Linked DNA regions of Homo sapiens. The protein of the gene in region 1 purifies or fractionates together with the protein of each later gene. This does not show direct contact. Each region holds a gene or a part of one and is shown in the gene's direction. Other genes may lie near its edges. The genes, in order: GFPT2 and ACOT9.

What was found.
Region 2: the proteins of GFPT2 (region 1) and ACOT9 purify together in Homo sapiens (affinity purification with mass spectrometry; 2 studies listed by BioGRID and IntAct, with this or other methods). This does not show direct contact.

Annotation. Positions count from the first base shown.
Region 1 is NC_000005.10:180,336,044-180,351,783, reverse strand, and holds part of GFPT2 (glutamine--fructose-6-phosphate aminotransferase [isomerizing] 2), read left to right. Parts: intron 1-13,183; coding exon 13,184-13,291; intron 13,292-15,206; coding exon 15,207-15,305; intron 15,306-15,740. UniProt on the Homo sapiens protein: Controls the flux of glucose into the hexosamine pathway. Most likely involved in regulating the availability of precursors for N- and O-linked glycosylation of proteins.
Region 2 is NC_000023.11:23,731,554-23,741,969, reverse strand, and holds part of ACOT9 (acyl-coenzyme A thioesterase 9, mitochondrial isoform a precursor), read left to right. Parts: intron 1-5,953; coding exon 5,954-6,051; intron 6,052-7,602; coding exon 7,603-7,629; intron 7,630-8,752; coding exon 8,753-8,798; intron 8,799-10,416. UniProt on the Homo sapiens protein: Mitochondrial acyl-CoA thioesterase. Catalyzes the hydrolysis of acyl-CoAs into free fatty acids and coenzyme A (CoA), regulating their respective intracellular levels. Regulates both mitochondrial lipid and amino acid metabolism.

The DNA of each region.
Region 1 (15,740 bases):
TCCTCCTTCCTACTGGCATCTTGCTTTTTCCCAAGTCTCTCTGAGCTTTGGGGGGGCTCTACCTCCTCCAGCTCACAAAATCACAAGTGTTTTTGTTCTGCTTCTTAAAGGGACACACACGCGTTGTCTCCTAGGGAAAGGTTGAGCTTTGGGGTGTGACCACCTGTATCTTCAGATTTTCTGGTACTGACTTGTGGTTGTATGTGAGAAGGAGCTTGAGGTCCCCAAAGGACACCCAGGGCTCAGGAGTGGCTGCGGTCCATGGGGGTGCCCACTCGGAGCCAGAATCAAAGAGTGCGTGCTGGCTTAGGTGCCTTCTCAGAATTCCCAGATTTGCTGATTTGGGGCTGGGGGCAGGGTGGGGGAAGTGGGGAGGGCACAGCTCAGCAGGAAGTCGTGGAATCCCTGCATGGGAAAGTTATTTCCTTTTCAAGAACATCAGGAGAAAGTTTCAACTTGGTGCTAACGTGTCCTTAACATCTCTCTGACACTTGCTTAAGTATCCTGTGCAGAGGGGAAGCCATTCCTGGCTCAGAGCAGGCAGCAGCAGCTGGCTAGAATTGAATACATTGGTCTGTTTGGGGGGGATGATGGTCTGAGTATGTATGACAAGTGATACTGATTTTCCTTTTATGGTTGTTTTCTTTTGGCATGAATTCATTTAAATTTTTGAAAATTTAATCAAATTCTGCAGAAGAAAAAGTAGTGATTATGCTATTAGTACAAGGATACTGCAAGAATCGTGAAGATGCTCCTAGAAAGAACCAGATAAGCTCTTCACTTTACGCTGGGGAAGCTGAGGCCCTGCGAAGTCTGTGCGCACCTGGCGTCTGAGCAGGCCTCGGGTCTCAGATCTCCTGGGCCGTTCCCTCAGGGGCGGAGACCTAAGGCCCTTCCTTATCACTTGGCTGATGACACTGCTGAGATTATGTCTTGCTGTCCTTTATCCTGCTGCTTCTCTCATGGGAAGCCAGGACTCGGCAGTAGTTGATCCTCTACAAACAGCAGATGATTCTCAAAAACTTTCAGTGCACTGAGAATTTAGCTGAAATGACACTTTGGTTTTATTGACATCTGAAAGTTGCTGGCATTTTGCTGACTTTCTGCGACAGAAAATTTACAATATTTCCTCCCTGTCTCTCTCCTTTCCTTCTCTGCTTCCTTTTTCATTCAGCCACTAGTGGAAATGCCCAGTGTTTTCCAGGCCCTGGGGGACTCGAAGATCTCATGGGTGTGGTCCTCCCCTCAAAGAAGGGGCAGGTGAGCCGCAGGGCTAGTCCAGAGACTGGTCACCAGCAGGGACGGGATGCCGATCAGGGCAGTGCTGCTGTGGAGGGAGGACCTTGAGCACGGGCTACAGCCTGGTAGAGTACTGGCCGAACAGGGAAGACAGACATCTTTTTGTTTGGTGCACAGGGTTTAAACCTTTTCCTCTATTAGTTACCAAAGTACAAAATTGGGAGATTTCACATAAGTAGGTGGGAGTTTTGGCTTCTCTTGACAAAATCTGAAGATGAGCAACCTGGAGTCCTTATTTCCAAATAGGGCCTGGGTGACCCCTTGGGTGATGGACACAAACTCGCCTGTTCTCCCAGTCCTTCCCAGCTGCCTCCCTCACTCATGGGACTCTGCACAACAGAGGCAGGAGCTGACCTTCCTAGGAAGAAGGGGAGGGACCTGGGGCAGTGCCACAAGGACCCAGACACGAGCACGGGCCCTGCAGAGAGGAGGGGGTGGCAGGCACGCTGGGCTGGGGCACAGCATGAGCTGGAGTGTGGCAGCATGGACCAGGCATGCATGGGGATTTGGCAGGAAGGATTTGCGCTTCCCATCCACGAATTTGTAAACTGTCCCTGTGCGTCCCATACTGCACTTAGTAATCTGTGAGGGAGAAAAAAAAAAAAACAATCACTGTGAAGAGCTGGAGAATTCTTAGTTCTTGCCAGAAGGTGAAGCCCTTGCCTTGACATCACCGTCTTTTGTCCTGGTTGGTGTGTTCGTCTCCACTGGCTGCTGTAACAAATGACTGCAAACTTACTGATTTAAAACAACAGAAATGTATTCGCTCACAGTTCTGGAGACCACAAGTCCAGAATCGGTTTTACTTGGCCCAGATCAAGGTACCTTCAGGGCTGAGCCTCCTCCAGAGGCTCTGAGGAGAATCTGTCGCCGGCCTCTCCCAGCTCCTGGGGCTGCCGCGTTCCTTGGCTTGTGGCTGTGTCGCTCCAGTCTCTGTGCTGGCTGCAGCCCTCCACTGTCTCCTCAGGGGATTCCCAAGTTCAGAAAAACCTTCTTTTTATAACTTTATGGTATAGCATCAGTAAACAGTGCTTTTCAATTGAGAGATTATTTTTGTATCTAGCAAAATTAGCTTATAAAGAGTGATTAATTTGAGGTTATAAGTTTGAGAGAAAATTCTGAAAATGAATTTCACAATAAAACAATTAAACTATTTAGGTATTTTATTTTTATTTTTAGAGGCAGAGTCTCACTCTGTTACCCAGGCTGGGATGCAGTGGGGCAATCATGGCTCACTGCATCCTTGAACTCCTGGGCTCAAGCCATCCTCCCACCTCGGCCTCCCAAAGTGCTGGGATTACAGGCATGAGCCACTGTACCTGTCCCCTTCTTTTCTTAAGATTTTTTTTTCTTTTAATTAAATATATATCACTTCCCTCTTTGTTTTTGGTGAAACTGTAAGAATGAAAGGGACACTGGCAACTTTTCTATTAAAAAATAGAAATGGCCGGGCACGGGGACTCACACCTGTAATCCCAGCACTTTGGGAGGCCGAGGTGGGTGGATCACGAGGTCAGGAGATCGAGACCATCCTGGCCAACATGGTAAAACCCTGTCTCTACTAAAATACAAAAAATTAGCCAGGTGTGGTGGCACGCACCTGTAGTCCCAGCTACTCGGGAAGGAGAGGCAGGAGAATTGCTTGAACCCAGGAGGCAGAGGTTGCAGTGAGCCGAGATCGTGCCACTACACTCCAGCCTGGCGACAGAGCAAGACCCTGTCTCAAAAAAAGAAAACAAAAAAAAAAAAAAAGAAAAGAAATGTCCTGTCCAGGTTACCACAGGAAGCAGAGTCTATTATCTCATGGATTCCAATGGTGAGGTCACTTTAACTCCTGGGGTCCCAAAGAGGCCTGGGGCAGTCTGGGGCTGTCTCCAGGGGAGCCAAGTCCCCTTCTTACCCTGAGCCAGGTGCCGCGTCTGCTCAGGGCCCCCGCCAGGCCCGCAGGCTCCTCTGTCTTTCTGTAAGAGCCTGGCGTGGGATCACATGCATCCGCGGCACCTCCAGCTTTGATCTTGTTTCTGCAAGGAGGTGGCAGGAATTGTCATCCCTGCTTCACCAAGTGACCTTTCCCAGTGTATGAGAGGCCACAGCTCCTCAGCAGCCCTTGCCCAAGGCCCAGGGGACTCTCCACACCTGTGGGCCTCACCCAGGAGAGTGGACCTGTCCCTCTTCCCCCAACACACACAGGCAGGCCCAGGCACACACGTGCACACGCTCGGGAATTTCACGAGCCCTCATTGAGGCAGACATTCAACTGGCCGTACTCTTCTGTTGAGGCAGGAAGTAATCCAGTTTGGGACCTGGGATGATACCTAATCTCTAGGAGGCTCATGGACTATAAAGGTCAGCCCCTTCAGTTCGGAGAAGCAACAGATGGTGGGAGAAAGACAGATCTCTGAGGGGTGAGTCCTGGCCTGGGTGGGTGGTGACATAGCTTCCAGAGCCAACCTGTCCTGTGTGGAGCACTGGCTGGGCCTCTCCCTGGAACGGTCCCCTCACTCAGAGTGAGGGCTGGGCTTTCGTTGGGAAGCCGATGCTTGGAAAGTTGGAGAGATTTTTCAAAACAAGCGTCACCAGAATCAGAACGTGGGCCCAACCTGGCTGCTGCGAAGTGGTGTCTTCCCCATCCCCCAGGCCGCAAATCATCCCTCCCCTCCACCCCCACGCTCAGCACTCCAGGGGCTGTAGAGGAAATCCCAGGAATTCAGTGCCCTAGTGTGGCTGACCTTCTGGCTGGGTGTCCAGGGAATATCATCTCCCTGCGCTGGCCATTGTCGTTATCTGTCACTTGGGGGTTGAACCCTGAGCTTCAGAGGCCCTGCCTGCGTGCCCCTTCATGATGTCTTTGCTCCTGACTTCCTGTGTGATCTCTCGGGCCTTGTGCAGAGAAAGTGCTGGAAGCCCCAGAATATAGCAGTGAGCCGGGGCCAAGAGGCTACAGTCTCCTCTCGGAGGGCTCATGTCGAATCCCTTCTGGAATCCCCTTGAGTTTTTCTCGGTCCCTCTCCTTCTGGGACCTTTCCCGGTTCATTTTATCTATCAATTTTGAGGATAGGGCCCTGAAAGGCTGTCTGGAAGCTCTGGGTGGGTGACCACAGGGCACATGACCAAACTGGGTGGTGGGGCCAGGGCAGCCTCTGCCCCCAGGCCGGGCCTTTCTCCAAGCCACCTGGGCTCTCCTGCTGGTAGGAAGGATGCTTGGCCCAGGGCCATCTTTGCAGAGGTTGCAAAGTGCTCCTTTTCTTTAGAAAGATCTCCAGGCTCCTGTATCTCAGACTTTCCATAAAGCCTGCATTTTCAGGCTCTCCTGCCTTCGGCTCTCCTGGCCTCTCAATCCCAACCCTCTGCAGGCTCTTGGGAACCTGAAGGCACCTCCCTGTCCAGCCCCTCTGGGCGCTCAGCATCCCCCACCTGGCTGGGTCCATCCCCTGTCTCTTCAATGTGAGAAATAAGACTGCTCCCAGGTTTGCTAGGCCTGATGTCTGTTCCCTCTCAGTTCTGCAAGGAGATTTCCAAGCTAAGAAGAGTAACAGAAAGGGGAAAACTTTCCCCCAAAGAAGTTTGGTGTTATTTACTGCCCCGTTCTCAGCTCATTTAAAATCCTGTCGCCTGCCAGTGATGCCTTTCTTACGCCGTGGGCAGCCCTGGGAGTGGAGGCTAGGAAAGAGCAGTAGATCAAGGTAGAAAGTGACAGATGCCTTGAAAAGGGGACGGAAAGTTGGAAAAAGGGGTTCAGAGGAGGGAAAAGATCTTCATCTGGGGTAGGGGGTTGGAGAAGGCATCACATGTGCATAGGCCTGGGGGCCCCAGGGGCGCACGCACTGGGCTGAGGGCACCCTGCAGGAGTGGGACCCAGAGGGCGGAAGCTGCAGGGTGGCATGGGGAGCAAGGCGGGCTCAGGCCAGACAGCAGGAGGGGTTGACGTCACGCGGTGGGCCCGCGGGGCAGAGAAGACGAGAGAGGGATGTAGCTGGAACCTGCCTTGCCGTGGTCACCGAGGCCCTGGTGGGGTGGGGGCTGAACAGGAGGAGAAAGGTGGAGTTGGAAGCTGGACTGTCCCGTGGTGGGGCTTGGCTCTCAGGGGGCAGCACCTGTCCTGGACCCATCTGGTGCTAGGCGGGCATCTCCTCAGAAGCCAGGGACCCTCTGTGTGAGCTATACCTTTCTTCTTGGGATAGGTTTCTATGCTGATTGTGGGGAGGTGGGGGTAGAAGTGGTGAGCCCAGGCTTGCAAAAAGGCAGACCTGGCTGTGAATTCCTCAAGTCTTTGGCAGTGGAGCCTCCGATGCCATCTCTATCCCTGGGAACCACAGTCTCTTCACACAGGATGTCATGAGGATTAGAGGAGGTGAAGCTCGGGAAGGGTTGGCATGCGGGGAGCCACTGTAGATGGTGGTTTACCCAGCAGGGTTCTGGGAGCCTTCCCTAGGCCCTGGCTCATTTGATTAGAAGGCTGTCCTCATGCCAGTCCTGGGATCCTCATGGTGCATGGGGCCGGGGGTGTTGTGCGGGGGGATGTAAGCCTCTGTGTTTGATTATCTTGGGGTTAACCGAGAGTTCTGGTGGCACCGTGCTCCCATTGTAAGGGTCTGGCACTCAGGGACCTCCTGCCTCTGTGTCCCTCTTGTCCTTGCTGTGGGTCCCAGTGAGCGGAGCTGCTTATGCTTGGCTGAACGTGGCTGTCTCAGACCCAGCTCAAAGGCTACCTTCTCTGGCATTCCTCCATCTGTTCATTCATTCACTCAACATGGATTTATTGAGCACCTAAGATGTGCCAGGCCCTGGGCCAGGTGCTGGGGACTCAGCAATGGATGAGACAGATGTGGTCCCATCCTCCAGAAGGTTACAATCCAGCGGGGAGCCGAAGAAAAAGACAAGGAAGCAAGTGCAGCGTGGAATAACCAGGGCTATGTGGCTGGAGAAGGTGGTGGGAAAGATCTGCTAAAACCTGCAGAATGGGTCAGAGGCGCCTTTGCGAAGAGCTAGCAAGAGCCAGCCTTGCAAAGAGCTGCCTACTCCCACCCCAGCGGGAAGCCCTTTCCCACCTCCCCTGTGGGCTTGGGAGGTCCCTGTGCATCCCTGTCCTTCCCTGGAGCGCTCAGTGAGGCCCCCCGATGGGTCCATCCCAGTAGCTTGCAGCACCTAGTACAGCAACGCGGCCTTGTGGGCCTGAGAACTGCTTACAGATGAATTAAATCTTGACCAAGCCACAACCAAGTAACGCATTTGGTTTAACCATTATTTCCCCAGGCAGAAGGCCAAGATGAAATGACAGTAAATGGTACTATTTCCCCCTTGGTTTTATTGAATGATAAATCTCTCAAGGGATAATTTCTCAAGCTCCTTGCCCTGTGGCAGGCACTATTGTAGCCATCACCCTGTTTCACTGACAGGGAAACTGAGGTCCGAACATTCAGTGGCTTGCTGGAGAGTGCACTGAAATCAAGGGGTGGAGCTGGGGTTCGAGGTGGGTTCCGGCACTGGCCACGGCCTCTGTGCTTCTGGGTATGCCTTGGCTGGTGAATGGCAGCAGCAGGGAGGAAGCCAACCCAGGCGGGTGGCCCTGGGCTGGTGTTTTTAAGGCTGGGGCATGTGCTTAGGTTGCCCCTTATTACAGCCCTCTTATGGCCGTTGCTCTTCCAGGGGAGTGGAACAGGGGACCAGCCAAGTCAGGTGGGCCCGGCCCCTCTTGTCGAGGGGCAAGAAGGCCTGGCCAGGGCAGGCCTGGCGTCCCCTGCAGAGGGAAGGGCCATTGTGGCCCTGGTGCTTCGGACATGCCAGGAGGGTTCAAGCACCGGTGGAAAGCAGAACCAGCCAGAGGTCCGGCCTGGCTGGGGGTCCCAGGTGCCGCACGGTCACTCCTCCTGTACCCAGAAGCTCTCAGGTCCCACTCAGCAGAATGCCTGTGCCACAGGAAATCCAGGTGAACCAGGCAGGTCTGCGTCATGTACACCACTGTCCAAACAGTCGGTCCATGTTAACCCTCAGGCCTTGGCTAGGACATCCCCCTGTGGATAGAATGAAGTCTTTGCTTATTTAGACATTATCTGGCATCTAGATAATGGTGATGTACTCATCACCACCTAATTCACATAGGGGCACATGTGCCATGGCACACGGTGAAATGTCTTAACCATCTAAAGAGGACACGTGCAGTGGAAAGGAAGTTTCTGCTCAACATCCAGTGACCTCAGAGGCTACCTTTGACTGCCCTCTGGGCGTGGTGCCCTTCTAGAAATGCTCCATGCTCCTCCCCCAGCCCTTGCGTAATTTACTCATATTCTGCAAGCTTCTTTTTCCCTTGACACATCTTGGAGATTTAAATTGCCTTCCAAGAGAATGCACAGCTTTCCCTTGCTCTCTGTTGAGGGCTGCCTGTAAAAGGCCCTGCTGTGTGGCTGCACTGTCCCTTGCCTGTCCCTTGCCTGTCGCTTGCCAGACATCAGACTGTCACTAGTCTTTGGCAACCACAAGAGCCCTGAGCAGCTGTCCTCGCACGTGTGCACATGCATCTCTGCAAAAAGTCCGCTGGATACCTTCTTAGAAGCCCAACAGCTCTGGTCCACAGATGTGTACATTTTTAATTTTGAGAGATTGCCAGATTGCTTTCCAAAGAGGGTATGTGAGTTTAAACTCTCACTGTCCAACTGTTTGATCTTTACCGACCTCATGGGTTTAAAAAAGTGGATTCTCACTGTAGCTTTTATTTATGGATGGAAGGAATTCCAAAAGGGAATTCTGATGTAAATAGCAGGAGAAATTCCTGGGAAAGGAGCTTCATTTTATTCTGTGTTTTATTTTTAAATGATAAGAGCACAGCGTGAACGCTATTTTATTCACTTGAGTGCAGTAGAGTGCAGGGAGGATCCAGCCAAGAGGATGAGCTGCAAAAGCAAAGAAACAGAGCTTCCTTCATGAAAGAAGTGACCGAAGGGATGTCACTACGCAAGAGGGCTCGTGGTGAAAATGAGATTTATGCTTTCTTGCGCCAAGATGGTGAAAACCACACTCCTTGGCAGCTTTTCTCACTGCAGTCAGCTCCCCTGCTGTGCCTGAGTGGGCACCGGGCCTCCTGGCTGGGTACGGACACAGCTGGTGGTCCTGAGGACAAGGACCCCTTATGCCCCCGCTGCTGTCCAGGAGGCTGTCGTGGGTCTGAAAGTCAGCGGTGCCTTGCGGAGCGTGCCGAACGTTCTCGCCTGACGTGTGCAGGAGTGAAGTGTGGCTGGGAGGTGGGGGAGCTGCAGGGGGGAGTTGCAGAGCTGACTCATTATGCACTCGGGAACATCATTCAGATGCAAAACCTTTTCAGAGTTGGCAATGGGTACATTTCTGAACCTTTGTGTCATCTGTGATGTCTGTCTGCTTCCCTTAGGGTGGTACAAGTATAATTCTAGAACATTCCCAGCCCAGGATGCCAGGAAAGTTCAGTGTAAAAGACTCTAACAGATTTTATTGAGTTGTTCCCTCCCTCGCTTAACTGTGGTCTTTACATTGACCACAATTTGACCATGTCCCCACAGGGAACTTTCTGGTTGTTGTTTTTTTCTTTCTTTCTTTCTTCCTTTTTTTTTCTTTTTGAGATGGAGTCTCCCTCTGTCACCCAAGCTGGAGTGCAGTGGCGTGATCTCAGCTCACTGCAACCTCTGCCTCCCGAGTTCAAGAGATTCTCCTGCCTCAGCCTCCTGAGTAGCTGGGATTACAGGCACGCACCACCATACCCAGCTAATTTTTCTATTTTTTAAGTTCAGACAGGGTTTCACCATGTTGGCTAGGCTGGTCTTGAGCTCCTGACCTCATGATCTGTCCAGCTTGGCCTCCCAAAGCGCTAGGATTACAGGCGTGAGCCACTGCGCTGGCCTCTGGTTGTTTTTAGAAGAGTTAATGTTATGAAAAGTTTCACCTAGGCTGGGCACTGTGGCTTATGCCTGTAATCCCAGCACTTTGGGAGGCCAAGGCTGTGGGGATAGCTTGGGCCTGGGAGTTCGAGGTTGCAGTGAGCCGAGATCACAACACTGCACTCCAGCCTAGGCAACAGAGCGAGACCCTGTCTCAAAAAAAAAAAAAAAAAAAACATTTCACCTAAACATGAATGGTGATAATTGCACAACTCTGAATATACTAAACCACTGAATCGCATGCTTTAGATGGCAGGCTGCTACGGTACATGACTTATGTCTCCAGAAAGCTGTTAAAATTTTTTAATTGACATTAAAAGATGTATTAGTCCATTTTCATGCTGCTGATAAAGACGTGCCCAAGACTGGGCAATTTACGAAAGAAAGAGGGTTAATGGACTCATAGTTCCACATGGCTGGGGAGGCCTCACAGTCATGGTGGAAGGTGAAAGGCACATCTCACGTGGCGGCAGACAAGAGAAGAGAGTGTGTGCAGGGAAGCTCCCCTTTATAAAACCATCCGATCTCATGAGACTTATTCACTCTCACGAGAACAGCATGGGAAAGAGCCGCCCCCATGATTCATTTACCTCCTTACACGTGGGAATTGTGGGAGCTGCAATTCAAGATGAGATTTGGGTGGGGACACAGCGAAACCATATCAAAAAATAACTATCTTTTTAAAAAATAAGGTGACAAAAGTACCTCCCATGCCCAGATGTTTGGGGGCTGTCGTGTGAGCCTCTGGAACCATAAATACTCAGCAGCAGTGCTGCGCGGCCCTCACTGGGGACACTTTGGCCCTGCCGGAGAAGGGCCTGAACTGCACACACAGCCCATACATTCAGCTCCTCTCACCTGATCTAAAGATGGCAAGGAAGACAAAAATAGCCTACCGAGAAAATTGCCCTTGGCTGATTTTAAAGGAAAACGCCTGTAACTGCTCAGAAAGCATAGTGTACATATTTTTATATATAAATCCCCCACCTTAATACATATGTGCAAACATATCCTGTGTACAGTAGCTTTCAGTAAGAATTTAAGTATAATTTATAGTACTATTTAATTTTATTGCCTATTTTTGACTGTTTATAGATTAATTAAGTTTATATGATGGGACCCCACTCACTGTTTAGGAATATAACATTCATTTCATTGAAGTTTATCATTTATTCAGATGTAGCATATTGACATGAATCTGATCTTCTTAATTACCAGAGATATTCCAGGTGGTTTCGTATATAATCACAATCAGCTGTCTGTTATCTAGGGGCAGGTTGTCCTCTCTGAGGTTCACCTCTGGAAAAATTTCAATCCTGATCAGACCTTTCTCTCATCCCAGCAAAACATAGTTGGGAAAATAAACCTTCTTGTAACCCTCGTGGCATCCATCCCGGGGTACTGGCCAGTGGGTAGGAGTGTTTAAGTCCTGAGTCGGGGATTCTTGGTTCCACTCTGGCTCTGGACGAGTCACAGGCTCCCCTGTGGCTCTGGTCCAGAAGTTAAGAGGAGGGCCATGGACTAGCCTCAGAGGCTGTTTTGAGCATAGGATGACCCTGTGGGAACTGGTGGCCCAGTGCCCGGCCCACAGGGACTTCTCAGTGAGGCGAGTCGCTGTTGTGGCCTGAGAGTTTGTTCCCCCGTCATTCATCTGTTGAAATCCTCAGCTGCATGGTGGTCTTACTAGGAGGTGGGGCCTTGGGGAGGCGATTAGGTCATAGGGACATGGGCCTCACGAATGGGATGAGTGCCCTTATTTAAAAACTGCGGAGCCAGGCGTGGTGGCTCACGCCTGTAATCCCAGCACTTTGGGAGGCGGAGGTGGGCAGATCATGAGGTCAGGAGATTGAGACCATCCTGGCTAACATGGTGAAACCCCATCTCTACTAAAAATACAAAAAAAAATTAGCTGGGCATGGTGTCGGGCACCTGTAGTCCCAGCTACTCGGGAGGCTGAGGCAGGAGAATAGTGTGAACCTGGGAGGCGGAGCTTGCAGTGAGCCAGGATGGCACCACTGCACTCCAGCCTGGGCAACAGAGCTAGACTCCGTCTCAAAAAAAAAAAAAAAAAACCTGCAGGCCAGGCAGGGTGGCTCACGCCTGTAATCCCAGCACTTTGGGAAGCCGAGGCGGGCGGATGACCTGAGGTCGGGAGTTCGAGACCAGCCTGGCCAACATGGAGAAACCCCATCTCTACTAAAAATACAAAATTAGCCAGGTGTGGTGGCACATGCCTGTAATCCCAGCTACTCGGGAGGCTGAGGCAAGAGAATCGCTTGAACCCGGGAGGCGGAGGTTGCCATGAGCCAAGATCGTGCCATTGCACTCCAGCCTGGGCAACAAGAATGAAACTCTGTCTCAAAAAAGAAAAACAACAAAAACAAAAACAAAAAAAAAAACCTCCAGAGAGACCCTGGCCCCTTCCACCGTATGAGGTTGGAATGAGCAGTCACTGTCTGTGAGGAACGGGCCCTCACCAGACACTGAATCTCTGGCACCTTGATCTTGGACTTCTCGGCCTCCAGAACTGTGAGAATAAACATCTGTGGCTTATAACCCAGGCAGTCTGTGGTATTTTGTTACAGCAGCCCAAGCCAACTTAGGACAGTTACCGTGAATATGCCTGAAACCCAGTGACATTTCTATGACCCATACTATTGCCTCCCTCCAGGGATACAGATACACACTCATCACATATTCTGTTCCACATGTGAACAGGACTGGGTGCCAACACACAGTGAGGAATACAAAGATAGAAGCACCAGCCTGTGCCCTTGGTGGGGACTGTGGGTGTCCCATGACGTGAGAGCACTGAGGTGGCCAGAGCCAGGAGCACACCTGCCCAGGGCGGGGGCTGGAGCTGAGCTTTGAAGTGGGCAGGTTTTCCTGAGCAGTGGGAGCGAGGATGAAAGGACAGAGGGATGATGGGATGAGGATGGGGCATGCACAGGGCAGGAGAGAGGACATCAAGGATCTGTCATCACAAACAAGGAGTGGAGGAATCTGGAAGGCAGAACCAACACAACGGCTAACTTTCTGTTTGGAAAATTATCTTGAAATATGAATACAGAAAGTCAAGTGGAACAAAATCTTCTTGACTCATAGGCCTACCTTGAACATAAGGATTCTGCAGGGGCCAAGGGGCATGAGATGGTTTTATTCTTGCTGTCATAAAAGTAGTGCTTTTTTTTTTTTTTTTTTTTTTGAGACAGAGTCTAGCTCTGTCGCCAGGCTGGAGTGCTGTGGCACGATCTCGGCTCACTGCAACCTCCAGCTCCCTGGTTCAAGCAATTCTCCTGCCCCAGCCTCCCGAGTAGCTGGGGTTAGAGGCACACACCACCACACCCAGCTAATTTTTGCATTTTTAGTAGAGATGGGGTTTCACCATGTTGGCCAGGCTGGTCTCGAACTCCTGACCTCAGGTGATCCACCCACCTCGGCCTCCCAAAGGGCTGGGATTACAGGCATGAGCCACCGCCCCCGGCTCAAGTAGTGCTTATTTAAGGTCAAGTTCCAGCCTTACGGAGAAGGGGACCGTGGAAGCAAAGGCCCCAGCGCCTGTCCCATCTGCCCTGGGGGCTGCTGTCCCTTTCTATGGCACTCCTAGATGTGTGCTCTGCAAATCAGGGAGTGCATGGAGGTGGGGACTTCCGGATGTCCTAAGGCGGTTGGATTTCATTGCTGCCTTTTCTATTATGGACATTGCCACGCTGAAAGCTGCCTCCTGCAAGTACAGCATAGGATAAGTTCTCAGCAGTGGAACTGCCAGCCCAAGACATGTGACACAGGCTTTCTGGGGGTTTTTGTCACAGGAGGAAGAAGGGGTGCACCGTTCTTCAGCTGTGCTCAGGGAGGGGCATACCCACCTCTGCAAGCCCCTGGGAGACCTTTGTGATGCCACCTCGGTGCATCCCCCAGAAGCGTTTTCTTCCAAACACGAGCTGAGTATTTTATGAATGCACCATTTTTTTCTCTTTGAACAGGAATCTTTGCCTACATGAACTACAGAGTCCCCCGGACGAGGAAGGAGATCTTCGAAACCCTCATCAAGGGCCTGCAGCGGCTGGAGTACAGAGGCTACGACTCGGCAGGTGGGTGTGCGGCCGCCCGCCTCGTGGCTGGGGACCGGGCTCCGCTGCTGTGGTCTCACCCATCTCCACTGCAGGGGGGTTTACAACCAGGGCATTTTTTCTGCTACTTTTTAACGTCTCTTTTCAATATAAAAATAACACTTGTCCGTTAAAGAAATTCGAAAACTATGGAAAAATAGAAGAAGCAAGGGTAAAAAACCCCAGAAAACCCCCTTCATCAGAAGTCCCCCCATCAGGAAGCAGAAAGGGTACAAAGCCACAGTCATGCAGCATGAGTAAGTCCTGGACAGCTGCTCTGCCGTGCGGTGCCTGACTTGAGCAACACTGTATTTTGCACATAAAAATTTGCCAAAAGGGTAGATTTTCATATTTTTATTTTTATTTTTGTTACTCAGGCTGGAGTGCAGTTCCAAGAAATTGGCTCACTGCAGCCTCAAGCTCCTGGGCTCAGGCGACCCTCAGCCTCCTCAGCATCTGGGACTACAGGCGTGCACCACCACACCCGGCTAATTTTTTATTTTTTGTAGAGATGAGGTCTCACTGTGCTGCCCGGCGTAGCCCCAAGCGATCCTCCTGCCTTTGCCTCCCAAAGCACTGAGATTGTAGGTGTGAGCCAGTGAGCCCAGCCAAGAGGGTAGAGCTTATGCTAAGTCCTCTTATCACACACAGAACAATACATAAAGAGGGCAGGAGCAGACTCTCGGAGGTGATAGGTTGATGGCATAGACGGCAGTGGTGGTTTCATGGGGGCACACGTGCCTCCAAGCTCATCGAGTTGTAGACATTAAGTATGCGCAGCGTTGTGTTTGTCAGCCCTGCCTCAGTGAGGTGGCTTCATTAAAAAAGGAGCCCCCATCAGTCTTTGGGACCCTTCTCCGGTCGCTGTTGTCTGTGGGGGTGGTCTGTGGTGGAGGTGTTGTACGTTGATATTTTTTGTTTTTACCTAATTATAATTATGCAATTTTGTAATTTTATATTCTTCTCTTTTCACTTGGCATTTCTAGGATCCTAAACTCATTCATTCTTTTTTTTTTTTTTTCGAGATGGAGTCTCGCTCTGTCACCCAGGCTGAAGTGCAGTGGCGCGATCTCAGCTCACTGCAAGCTCCGCCTCCTGGGTTCACGCCATTCTTCTGCCTCAGCCTCCCGAGTAGCTGGGACTACAGGCGCCCACCACCACACCCTGCTAATTTTTGTACTTTTAGTAGAGACGGGGTTTCACCGTGTTGACCAGGATGGTCTCAATCTCTTGACCTTGTGATCCACCCGCCCTGGCCTCCCAAAGTGCTGGGATTACAGGCGTGAGCCACCGCACCCGGCCGATCCTAAACTCTTTCTAAGTAGCTTTCTAAGTGGCTACACAATGCTCCGCTGGGTGGCTGTCCCAGAGTTCAGGCCTCCATTCACTGCAAAGGTGGATGTTTAGTCTGTTGACCTTGTTTAATTATGCAGCCTGAGGAGAAAGGGGGAGCCCGATGGTTTTAAATCCTTGTCGACTCTTAATAGGAAGCACGTCCGATAGACGACGGGAGGAACACTAACGCAGTGGAGATACCAACGAAATATCACAATGCGAGGAGCCCTTGGGATAAATGCCCTGCCTGGGCCCATTGCCATCAGCCGAGGGCCTGGGAGCGCCTGCAGCGGGGAAGTGTCCCGAGGGGCTCACCCTAGCTAGGCAGGAGCAGGGCTGGGGGCAGCTGCGGCCTGGAGGAGGCAGGGGCTTCCTCACTTGCTGTTAAGCCTGGCCGCAGTCACAGCCTCTTTCAGAGCAGATTTCCTGAAAACTGTACAGCTCTCCAACCTGCCATAAACGGACAGCCCGGGGCATGCAGCCCTGACCCTGCGGAGCACCTGTGCCAAGTGTGTGAGAAAAAGCTTTGGTTGCAATATAACAAATGCTGTCTACATCACAGGTGTGGCGATCGATGGGAATAATCACGAAGTCAAAGAAAGACACATTCAGCTGGTCAAGAAAAGGGGGAAAGTCAAGGCTCTCGATGAAGAACTTTACAGTAAGTGGAGGACCTCTGAGTGGGAGGAGCCGCTGCAGCGCCGGCCGCTTTCTAGGACCGTATTCCAACAGCGCCGGAGAATGGAGATTCTCCTTTGTCCCAGCTCAGATAAACAGAGGGAGGGCTAAGCCCGTGCTGTAAAACCGGGCTTCGCAGGGTATGGGATGGTTTATTTTAGGTGGTGGCGGCGCATGGATAATTTTTTTAAGTGTGAAGGGTTACATACAGTAGTTATTTTAATTATTCCAGCAAATGATACTGCTTCTCTGTTTATGGTAGGGATATATCATTTTCTTTTTAAAGCAAGTTTATTTCTGTGAAGAAGTGAGCTAAGCTACAGACAAGTAGTAAATAACCTTCAGCACGGGTGGTTTGTGGGCCTGCGCGGACTCCCAGGGTGGGAGCTGGTGGGGAGGTGCCATCGGTGTGGGTGAC
Region 2 (10,416 bases), on another chromosome or scaffold:
GGTGTGGTGGTGCACGACTGCAGTCCCAGCGTTTTGGGATGCTGAGGTGGATGGATCACTTGAGGCCAGGAGTTCGAGACCAGCCTGGCCAACATGGTGAAACCCCGTCTCTATTAAAAATACAAAAATTAGCCGGGAGTGGTGGTGCATGTCTGTAGTCACAGCTACTTTTGGAGGCTGAGGCAGGAGAATCGCCTGAACCGGAAGGCAGAGGTTGCAGTGAGCTGAGATCGCGCCCCTGCACTCCAGCCTGGGCAACACAGTGAGATTCTGTCTCAAACAAAAAACTATTGAACCTTAAGCGGATAATCTCTTAGTGTCTAGTGAGAGGAGGAGTTCACAAATGAATATAGACTGAGATGATTAGGTTCTTTGACTGGTGGGCAACCTTTGTAGCTTCTTTTCTTTTTTAGACTTGCAAGAGGCACCTTTGTTTAGTCTCTAAATAGAGGTTATTTCCTCAGAGTGGAGGGCATATGAGTGGTATTGCCTGTTATTGCACTGAACACTCTTCCTTGCCAACTGCTGTAAGCTTGGGACCCAGGGCTGAGCCAGGGTGAGTTATGTGACTCCCCAGGTAGGCCATGGAGGCCTTGAGTTTTCTTTTTTTTTTTTCTCTTTGAAATACTTTTTTTATTTCTTTGGGATATATGTCCAGAAGAGAAATTGCTGGATCATATGGTAGTTATATTTTTAATTTTTGGAGGAACTGCCTCATTATTTTTCAAAATGGCTGTACCAGTTTACATTTTCACCAATAGTGTACGAGGGTTCCCTTTTCTCTACATCCTCACCAACACTTGTTATCTTTTGTCTTTTTGTAATAATCATCTTTTTATTATTATTATTATTATACTTTAAGTTTAGGGTACATGTGCACAATGTGCAGGTTAGTTACATATGTATACATGTGCCATGCTGGTGTGCTGCACCCATTAACTCGTCATTTAGCATTAGGTATATCTCCTAATGCTGTCCCTCCCCACTCCCCCCGCCTTGAGTTTCTTGATCTCCTTTGATTGGAAAGGTTCAGTTACAAGGTCCTGGGATTTGAGTGTTGCAAAGGCCTCTCCACAGTAAAGGCCTAGAGGTTTTGCTATAAGTAAGACTCCTGAGGGCTTATCAGGAGATAAGCCAGTAACCCTGAGGTACTGAAGTGTTGAGTATTGATTAAAACCATTCTCCCACCTCCTCCACCTCAGTGCGGTGTGTGTGTGTGTGTGTGTGTGTGTGTGTGTGTGTGTGTGTGTGTATGTATTGGGGGAGATCGGAAGAACTGGGCTCTATCTGGACTCTGCTGGTGTGCCTGTTGACTGGCACTGGGGGAAAGTCGTCTGAAACTGGGGCCTCAGTTTCTTAAGGAGGTTGGTTTGAATCAGAATCTTCAAATATAGGGGGATCTGAGGGTACAAAAAGGGTCTGTGCACCTCCTGAAATAGTATATACCATTGTGTGTGTGAGCAAAAATGTATTCCAACCCTTCCCACGCCCGCTCGAGGTCCACAGTTTCCATCAGATTATCAGTAAATAGGATACCAAATGTAGTGAAAAGTTACCATTACATGCCAGGCGCGGTGGCTCACGCCTATAATCCCAGCACTTTGGGATACTGAGGCGGGCAGATCACTTGAGGTCAGGAGTTCAAAACCAGCCTGGTCAACATGGTGAAGCCCTGTCTGTACTAAAAACACAAAAACTAGCTGGGCATGGTGGTGCACAGCTGTAATCCCAGCTGCTCGGGAGGCTGAGGCTGGAGAATCGCTTGAACTCGGGAGGTGGAGGTTGCAGTGAGCCAAGATGTTGCCACTGCACTCCAGCCTGGGTGACAGTGAGACTGTCTCAAAAAAAAAAAAAGTTACCATTACCCGAATACTCTTGAATGCTATGTTGACAGTATGATATAGATTTATTATTACCAATATGCTATTGGTATAAGCAACATTTTTTTAAAAAGTGTTCCAATTATGCCTTTGTTGTGCCACAGGAATGTATTTCCAAATTTTTTAAGGCAGCATGCAAAGCAATGGGGCTCTAGGACTACAATTTTCCAAATAAATTGGCCCAAGTGTTTCTCTGTATTCATTAACTCCCTTCTTTTCTCTCCTCATTTGATTCTATGTTTGGCAGTGGTCCGTGATAGTGCCTGGCTTAGGCTATCTTTCCTTTTTTTTTGGAGACAGAGTCTTGCTCTTTTACCCAGGCTGGAGTGCAGTGGTGCGATCATGGCTCACTGCAGCCTCGACCTCCCCGGGGCTCAAGTGATCCTCCCACCTCAGCCTCCTGAGTAGCTGTGACCACAAGTGTGCACCACTACGCCTGACTAATATTTTAAAATTTTTTTGTAGAAACGGGATCTCCCTATGTTGCCCACACTGGTCTCAAGTGATCCTCCCGCGTTGGCCTCTCAAAGTGCTGGGATTACAGGCGTGAGCCATTGTGCCCAGCCTGGTTCTTTTTGATCTTTAGGGGAGACTTTGGAGAAGCATGACTTTCTGGAATAATGATAGCTAGAGATTTTTGAGGACTTGTCAGTATATTAGACATGCTCTTCTAGACGTGCCCTTCAGGGTTTAATATGTGTTAATTCCTTTATCCTTTTGACAATCCTATGGGATAGGTAGTATTATTATCCCCATTTTACAGATGAGGAAACTGAGGATCAGGGAGGTTAGGTAACTTGTCTAAGGTAACTCAGCTAACAAGCAGCATGATTGGGCTCTTTTTTTTTTGAGACAGAGTCTCGCTGTGCAGTGGCACGATCTCGGCTCACCGCAGCTTCCGCCTCCTGGGTTGAAGCAATACTCCTGCCTCAGACTCCCGAGTAGCTGGGACTGCAGGTGCCCGCCAGCATGCCCAGCTAATTTTCATATTTTTAGTAGAGACGGGGTTTCACCATATTGGCCAGGCTGGTCTCAAACTCCTAACCTCAAGTGATACGCCTGCCTCGGCCTCCCAAAGTGTTGGCATTACAGGCATGAGCCACTGCGCCCAGCCTTTGGGTTAACCCCTATACTGTATTGCCTCTCACACAAACAGGATGGAATGATTTTCATCCCTCTTCAGAAAATGCTGCTTCTTAGTGTAACAAAACAATTTCTGTGTATATGTGTATTTATTCAGGTATGTGAGACTGGTTATATAGCTCCTGTTAGTGATGCGTATTCAGGGTATTTAGCCATTCAGAATCAGATCCCATTTCTTATGTTGGATACATTTAACGTGTCTATTATAGTTCCTATTAATGTGTTGGGGGTCATGATTTTTTTGCTCTTTCAGCTAATGGTAGCAATAGAAAGGATTAGCTTTTTCCAGTGTGTTCTTTAAAACCAGATATATTCAGTTGTAGAATGCTAGTTTCTTTTTTGAGATGGAGTCTTGCTCTGTTGCTCAGGCTGGAATGCAATGGGGCCATTTCAGCTCACTGCAACCTCTGCCTCCTGGGTTCAAGTGATTCTGCCTCAGCCTCCAGAGTAGCTGGGACTACAGGTGTGCGCCACCATGCCTGGTTAATTTTTATGTTTTTAATAGAGATAGGGTTTCACCATGTTGGCCAGGCTGGTCTCGGACTCCTGACCTCAGGTGATCTACCCACCTCAGCCTCCCAAAGTGTTAGGATTACAGGCATGAGCCACCATGCCTGGCTGCTTGTTTCTGAGATGGAAGAATGAAGGAATACTTACTCTGTTTCCTTCAGTAAGGCATATGAACCTATAGAAGATACATAAAACAAAATAATGAAAAAAATGGAAAATTCAAATCACGTTCTGAGAAAATGCAGATTAGATGGTCAAAAACAAAAAGACGGCCAGGTGCGGTGGCTCATGCCTGTAATCCCAGCACTTTGGGAGGCCAAGGTGGGCAGATCACAGGGTCAGGAGTTTGAGACCATCCTGGCTAACATGATGAAACCCCGTCTCTACTAAAAATACAAAAAATTAGCCGGGCGCGGTGGCGGCGCCTGTAGTCCCAGCTACTCGGGAGGTTGAGGCAGGAGAATGGCGTGAACCCGGGAGGCAGAGCTTGCAGTGAGCCGAGATCGCACCACTGCACTCCAGCCTGGGCGACAGAGCGAGACTCTGTCTAAAAAAAAAAAAAAAGACAAATATTAATCTGTATACGAAAGTACAGGAATTGAATATTTATCGTGAAAAAGTGAAGCTAAAATATTTAAGAGAGAGGCTTGTTAGCTGTGTGATTGAAGAATAAACAGATCCAAAACCCCAAACCCTCCAGCAAGAATTTTGGTCTTAGTGGACCAGCAGGGATTGTATTGCAACCAAATAAGATGACTGGTGACTAAGAAGTTCAATTAGCCAATGAGTATGTGCTCATATTTCTGTGTTCTGTGCAATTAGATGATTTGACTTGGTGAAAGGATAAGGATTTGTTCTAACAGCACAGTGTCAAAACTGCATGTAGATTTTACAGAATACTGTAAATACTGAGAGGCTTTCTCTGAATGCTGTCATTCAGAAGAGAAACCTATAGTAGCTTGGTCTGTAAAGAAAACTAAAAATATCTCTTTTTTTTGTTGTTAGTCATTGCTTATTCCCACATTAGGTGGTGAGAATTTACTAGTAAATTGAACTGGAATGAGTGACAGTATCTGGGGTTCTGGGTTTTTTTTGTTTGTTTGTTTTATTTTTGTTTTTGTTTTGAGACAGAGTCTTGCTCTGTTGCCCAGGCTGGAGTATAGTGGTGTGTTCTCGGCTCACTGCAACCTCCATCTCCTGGGTTCAAGCGATTCTCCTGCCTCAGCCTCACAAGTAGCTGGGATTACAGGTGCCTGCCACCACACCCGGCTAATTTTTGGATTTTTAGTACAGACAGTGTTTCACCATGTTGGCCAGGCTGGTCTCGAACTCCTGACCTCAAGTGATCCACCTGCCTTGGCTTCTCAAAGTGCTGGGATTACAGGCATGAGCCACCACGCCTGGCCTGCGGGGTTCTTAACCTATTCAGTGCCTTGCCTTCTTCAACTGTGCTCTCACAGATCAGTTTATTAATCTGTGATATTGCCTGTGTGCTACCCCTGACATAATATTGTGTGATTAGGAGTCAATGCTTAAGCAATAATGAACCAAAATCAACTTATTTTGGGAGAGTAGGTTAGGCACATTTAGGTAGACAGCTTTTATTTTTTATTTTTTTGAAGCAGGGTCTCACTCTGTTGCCTAGGCTGGAGTGCAGTGGTACAATCTTGGCTCACTGCAGCCTCGACCTCCTGGGTTCAAGTGATCCTCCCATCTGAGCCTCTTGAGTAGCTGGGACCACAGGTGCATGCCACCACGCCCGGCTAATTTTTGTATTTTTTGTAGAGATGGGGTTTTGCCATGTTGCCCAGGCTGGTCTTGAACTCCTGGGCTCAACCTGTCTACCTGCCTCAGCCTCCCAAAGTGCTGGGATTACAGGCCTGTGCCACCGTGGCCAGTAGATAGCTTTTATTTTATTGTGTTGGGACTCTAGAAAATTTCTGCGTAAGTTAAATAAATACTTTCTTTGCATCTGGAAAGGGCTAATTCAATTTTCAAAGTTTACTTTATAATTGGGTTTATCTTATTTATTGAGGAAATATGGTGCGATAATAAAGAACAGAATAAATTGTTCATAATGAGTTTGCTCAGTTGTTTACTAAATCGATTATGGACTTCTGAAACTAATAAAATAGAAAGACCAATAATAAATGCATTAAACCTAGTTGCCGTCTTTTATTTATTTTGTAGATAATTACCTAATTGGTCTCTGCTCTCAAGAAATGTTTACTCTAGTGGGAGAGATGATTTATGGAATAGCCTCATGAAAACATACATATACTTGTGAAACAGCTACAGACTCCTACAAGACAATATATACTAAGGGTGATATGGCCAGATACTCTGGGAGGAGGGTAGGTCTTTAGGGTTGCCAGGGAAGAAGCTGTGGGATCTGCTCTGTGTTTTATCTTGTTTTATAGGCTTTGTGCCTTGGGCAAAGGGCAGCTTACTCCTGGAAGAGGACTGACTCAAGGACCCCAGAACCCCAAGAAACAGGGAATCTTCCACATTCATGAAGGCAAGCATGGTGTCTCTGTTTGATGCCTATGTGGTGAAAAACCTTGTTTTACTTTTATTTGAAAGGTATATAGAGTGATAGTTTAGAGCAAATGAGGCATATTAAAGGTAGATCTTTCATAAACATTTCATTGACAAAATGACCAGGATAGCTGCATAATATTAATAGCTTCAGATAGAAGTCACATTCAGATTTTGAACTATTGTTCCTGGGAGCCTTGAGGACTGAGCTCTTTTAGTTAGGTGATTTCCACTTCCTGTGTGTAGGTTCTGAAGGCATGGAAAAAAAGAGATGGGCCCATTAGTTGTATCAAGTAAACACTCCTAGTCCATAGTTATGTTCGAGGGATCCTGTTAGTCCATGCTTAATTAAAGTTAATTTCAATTACCAATATGATACGTAAACTATGGATTGTCTTTATTAAACTAGGAGTATTCGTTATAATTAAAATTGCGGCTTCTTTAAAGGGTCCAAATAAATTTATATTATGTGTGTATATAAATATATATGTAAGTAAAATTAAAAAGTTTTTCCTTCTTGGCCCTCAATACTTGCCTCTCTTCTTACACTGATTAAGCTAGTAGTAATTATTTTATGTCAGTGAGCATCAGTAGTCCATGTACTATTTGAGGTACTTTCTGTCCATTCTTTTTTTTTTTTTTTTTTTTTTTTTTTTTTGGGATGGAGTCTTGCTCTGTCACCCAGGCTGGAGTGCAGTGGCAGGATCTCGGCTCACTGCAACCTCTGCCTCCCTAGTAGCTAGGATTACAGGCATGCTCCACCACGCCCAACTAATTTTTGTATTTTTAGGAGAGATGGAGTTTCGCCACGTTGGCCAGGCTGGTCTTGAACTCCTGGCCTCAAGTAATCTGCCTGTCTTGGCCTCCCAAAGTGCTGGGATTACAGGTGTGAGCCTTTTTTTTTTTTTTTTTTTTTTGAGATGAAGTCTCACTCTGTCGCATAGGCTGGAGTGCAGTGGTGGGATCTTGGCTCACTGCAACCTCCGCCTCCCAGGTTCAAGTGATTCTCTGCCTCAGCCTCCTGAGTAGCTGGGATTACAGGTGCCCACCATGCCAGGCTAATCTTTGTATTTTTAGTAGAGACGGGGTTTCACCATCTTGGCCAGGCTGGTCTTGAACTCCTGACCTCATGATTCACCCACCTCGGCCCCATCCATTCTTTTATTCAAGGAACTTAGGAGGAAAAAATCAGAAATAAGACTAAGTTACTAATGGTTGTTGTTTGCAGTTCTCTAACATTTAGTTGTAATTATACATCAAATTTATGGTGTATCCAAAATTGTTTGATAGAAAAATCAACCATTTTTCATGAAAGTTAAAATGCATGTTCATATAAATTATATTTGGTTTTGATCAGTTAGTTATTGAAGGACTGAGGATTGCTATAGTTAATTTCCTATAACTGGAATGTATATTTTGAAGTGCTAGGAAAAACACATAAACTCAACACAGTATTTGAAATACTACAGATTTATCTTTTAGTTTTGAATTATTGCTGGTTCTCTAATTGATTTTCCCTTTATTCATATAGCATGTTCATCTATACATGTGAATCATGGTGTGTGTGGTAATTAGTATCAGCTTTTCTTTTAAGAGCTTAAATTTTGTAAGCACTAATATACGCTTGCACTTTTGGGCAGTGGCATTAACTAAAATTGCATTCTTTGCCTTAGCTTGATGTAAGTCTTTGCTTCATTTTTCTGGCTTAAACTTTTCTAACAACCAGGAGACTATAAATATATGAGAAATTAATTATAATGAGACTCAGATTTGGATATTAGTATTAGTCTCTGAACTAAGTAATTTGATCTATTACTGCGTATAAGAAGATAGGTGGGGGCCAGGCGCAGTGGCTCACACCTGTAATCCCAGCACTTTGGGAGGCCGAGGCAGGCGGATCACCTGAGGTCAGGAGTTCAAGACCAGCCTGACCAACATAGTGAAACCCCATCTCTACTAAAAATACAAAATTAGCAGGGCATGGTGATGCCTGCCTGCAATCCCAGCTACTCGGGAGGCTGAGGCAGGAGAATCACTTGAACCCGGGAGGCGGAGGTTGCAGTGAGCTGAGATCGTGCTATTGCACTCCAGGCTGGGCAACAAGAGCGAAACTCTGTCTCAAACAAAACAAAACAAAACAAAACTACAAAAATTAGCCGGGTGTGGTGGCACAGCGCCTGTAATCCCAGCTACTTGGGAGACTGAGGCAGGAGAATCGCCTGAACCCGGGAGGTGGAGGATGCAGTGAGCCGAGATTGTGCCACCGAACTCTAGCCTGGGTGACAGAGTGAGACCATCTCAAAAAAAACAACAAAAAAGAAGATAGGTGGGAATCCTGTTCATATCTCCATCATAATGGCTCTTACTGGCTAACACTGATACAGCCCCATTAAGTGAATAATTGAAGTTATCCTTTTTTGTTTGTTTATATAAACCCTAGTGATTGGCACAAAGGTATTCATTTGTGCACCTTTAAAGAGACAGTATAGTTCTTTCAGGTTTTTAGGGAGCAGAGGCTTGATCCTGTCCCTGAGCTGTTTGTTGTGGCATTAAATGGAAATCTATGGATCTTTAAATCTTTTGAGTGCATGAATTGCTTTTTGTAGTTCTTGAGCTCATTGCCATAATCCGTTTCTCATATTTCTTTGTTTCATGGAATGACCTCTTTATTTTTGTTTCAGTTCGAGATAAGTTGCGGGAGATAGTAGGAGCATCCACAAACTGGAGGTATGCATCTTTGTTTTCATTCATTCTTTTCATCCCCAAGGTATTATACTACACTGTATTTAGGCTCAGTTGATGGTCTCACAGTGGGGATGGGGAGCCCTATGTTCAGAGATAGGTTGAGAAGTATTTTGCTTGGGGGAGAAGGTCAACATTTCAACATACTCATCAGATGACACCTCATTGTCATGAAAGAAGATGATTTACGTATATTCTGCATTTTCAAAGTGCATTTAGGTGTATATTACTTCACTGATTCTCATAACAAAACTTGTGACGTGCTTACGACATATGTTCCTGTTCCTTTTTTTACACATGAAACTGAAACTCAGAGATTGAATGATTAAATGTCAGGGTTTGGGACTTGAACCCAAGTCGCTAAGTTTCTCTGTTTCATGCAACTTGACTCCTTTATTGCTTCTTGTCAGTTCAAAATTAGTCAGGCCTCCCATATTGTCTTTCTCTTTCTCGCAGTATTTCCTTGTTGTAAAGTAGGATCATATCCCTCTTGGTGTACATAATTTTGAGGCTAAAATGAGATAGAAAAAACACGAGTGATCACTAGATATATAATAATCTATTGTTGGTATAGAAATTATCTAATGACTTATTTTTAAATTCTTTATATGAAAAATTTCACTTTACTAAAAGGTAGAAAGAATGAATACCTGTGTACCCACCACCTGGATTCCATACTTATTAATATTTTGCCAAATTTTCCAATATACACATATTGCCTGAACCATTTCTAAGTAAATTATAGACACCATGACACTTCAGCGTGCATCTTCAGTAAACATTTTATAAAACCAGCCTTCGCTTATCTCCAACAAATAAGACATTCTCTCATGTAATCAAATTGACAGCAATTCCTTGCTAGTATATTACTCATCCATAGTCACATTTCCTCAACTGTTACCATTTTGTGTAATAGATTACTCCTTTTAACAAAAATGTTTTTATAGCTGTTTAAAAAACATCAAGATCCAATAAAGGATTGCATGTTGCATCTGGTGGTTATGACTCTTTAGTCTTCCCTAATCTAGAGTAATGGACAGTCGTCCTTCCCCTATTCTTCCCCCATGAGCTTGACTTTAAGGAGGCCAAGCCATTTGTCTTGAGAATGTTCCACATTCTGGATTTACTGGTGTCATTTAACTCATTCCTCTATCTCCTGTAGTTTTTGTAGGGTAAACATTTCTGGAAATAATACTTTATAAGTTAAGCTTAGAAAGACATCTTAGCTAATGTTCTTATCAACATTGTCGTTCCGTATCCCCTTGTCTTTCTTTTCTCTTTCACCTTAATCTTCTCTTCTTTTTCTTCCCTTTCTGTCTCCTTTTCATGTTATGTTCTTCTTTACCTTTTGTTCTGCCTTCCATACTTCCTTTGGATATAGTCCATTTTCCCTCCTCTGTCTCTCTTTCCTGAAATTGAAGGCAGAGAGAGAGAGAGAACTGGGGCTCAAAGAATCCGAGAACTGTCAGGTGAGAAATGGGAATATAAAGTAGAGTGGCCAAGCCATTCTTTAGCATATATATTTATATGTATATATATATACTATTTTGTCCATCTCTCTAAATTTTTAATTTAATTTCAAATATTCTGGTCTTTGAGTAAA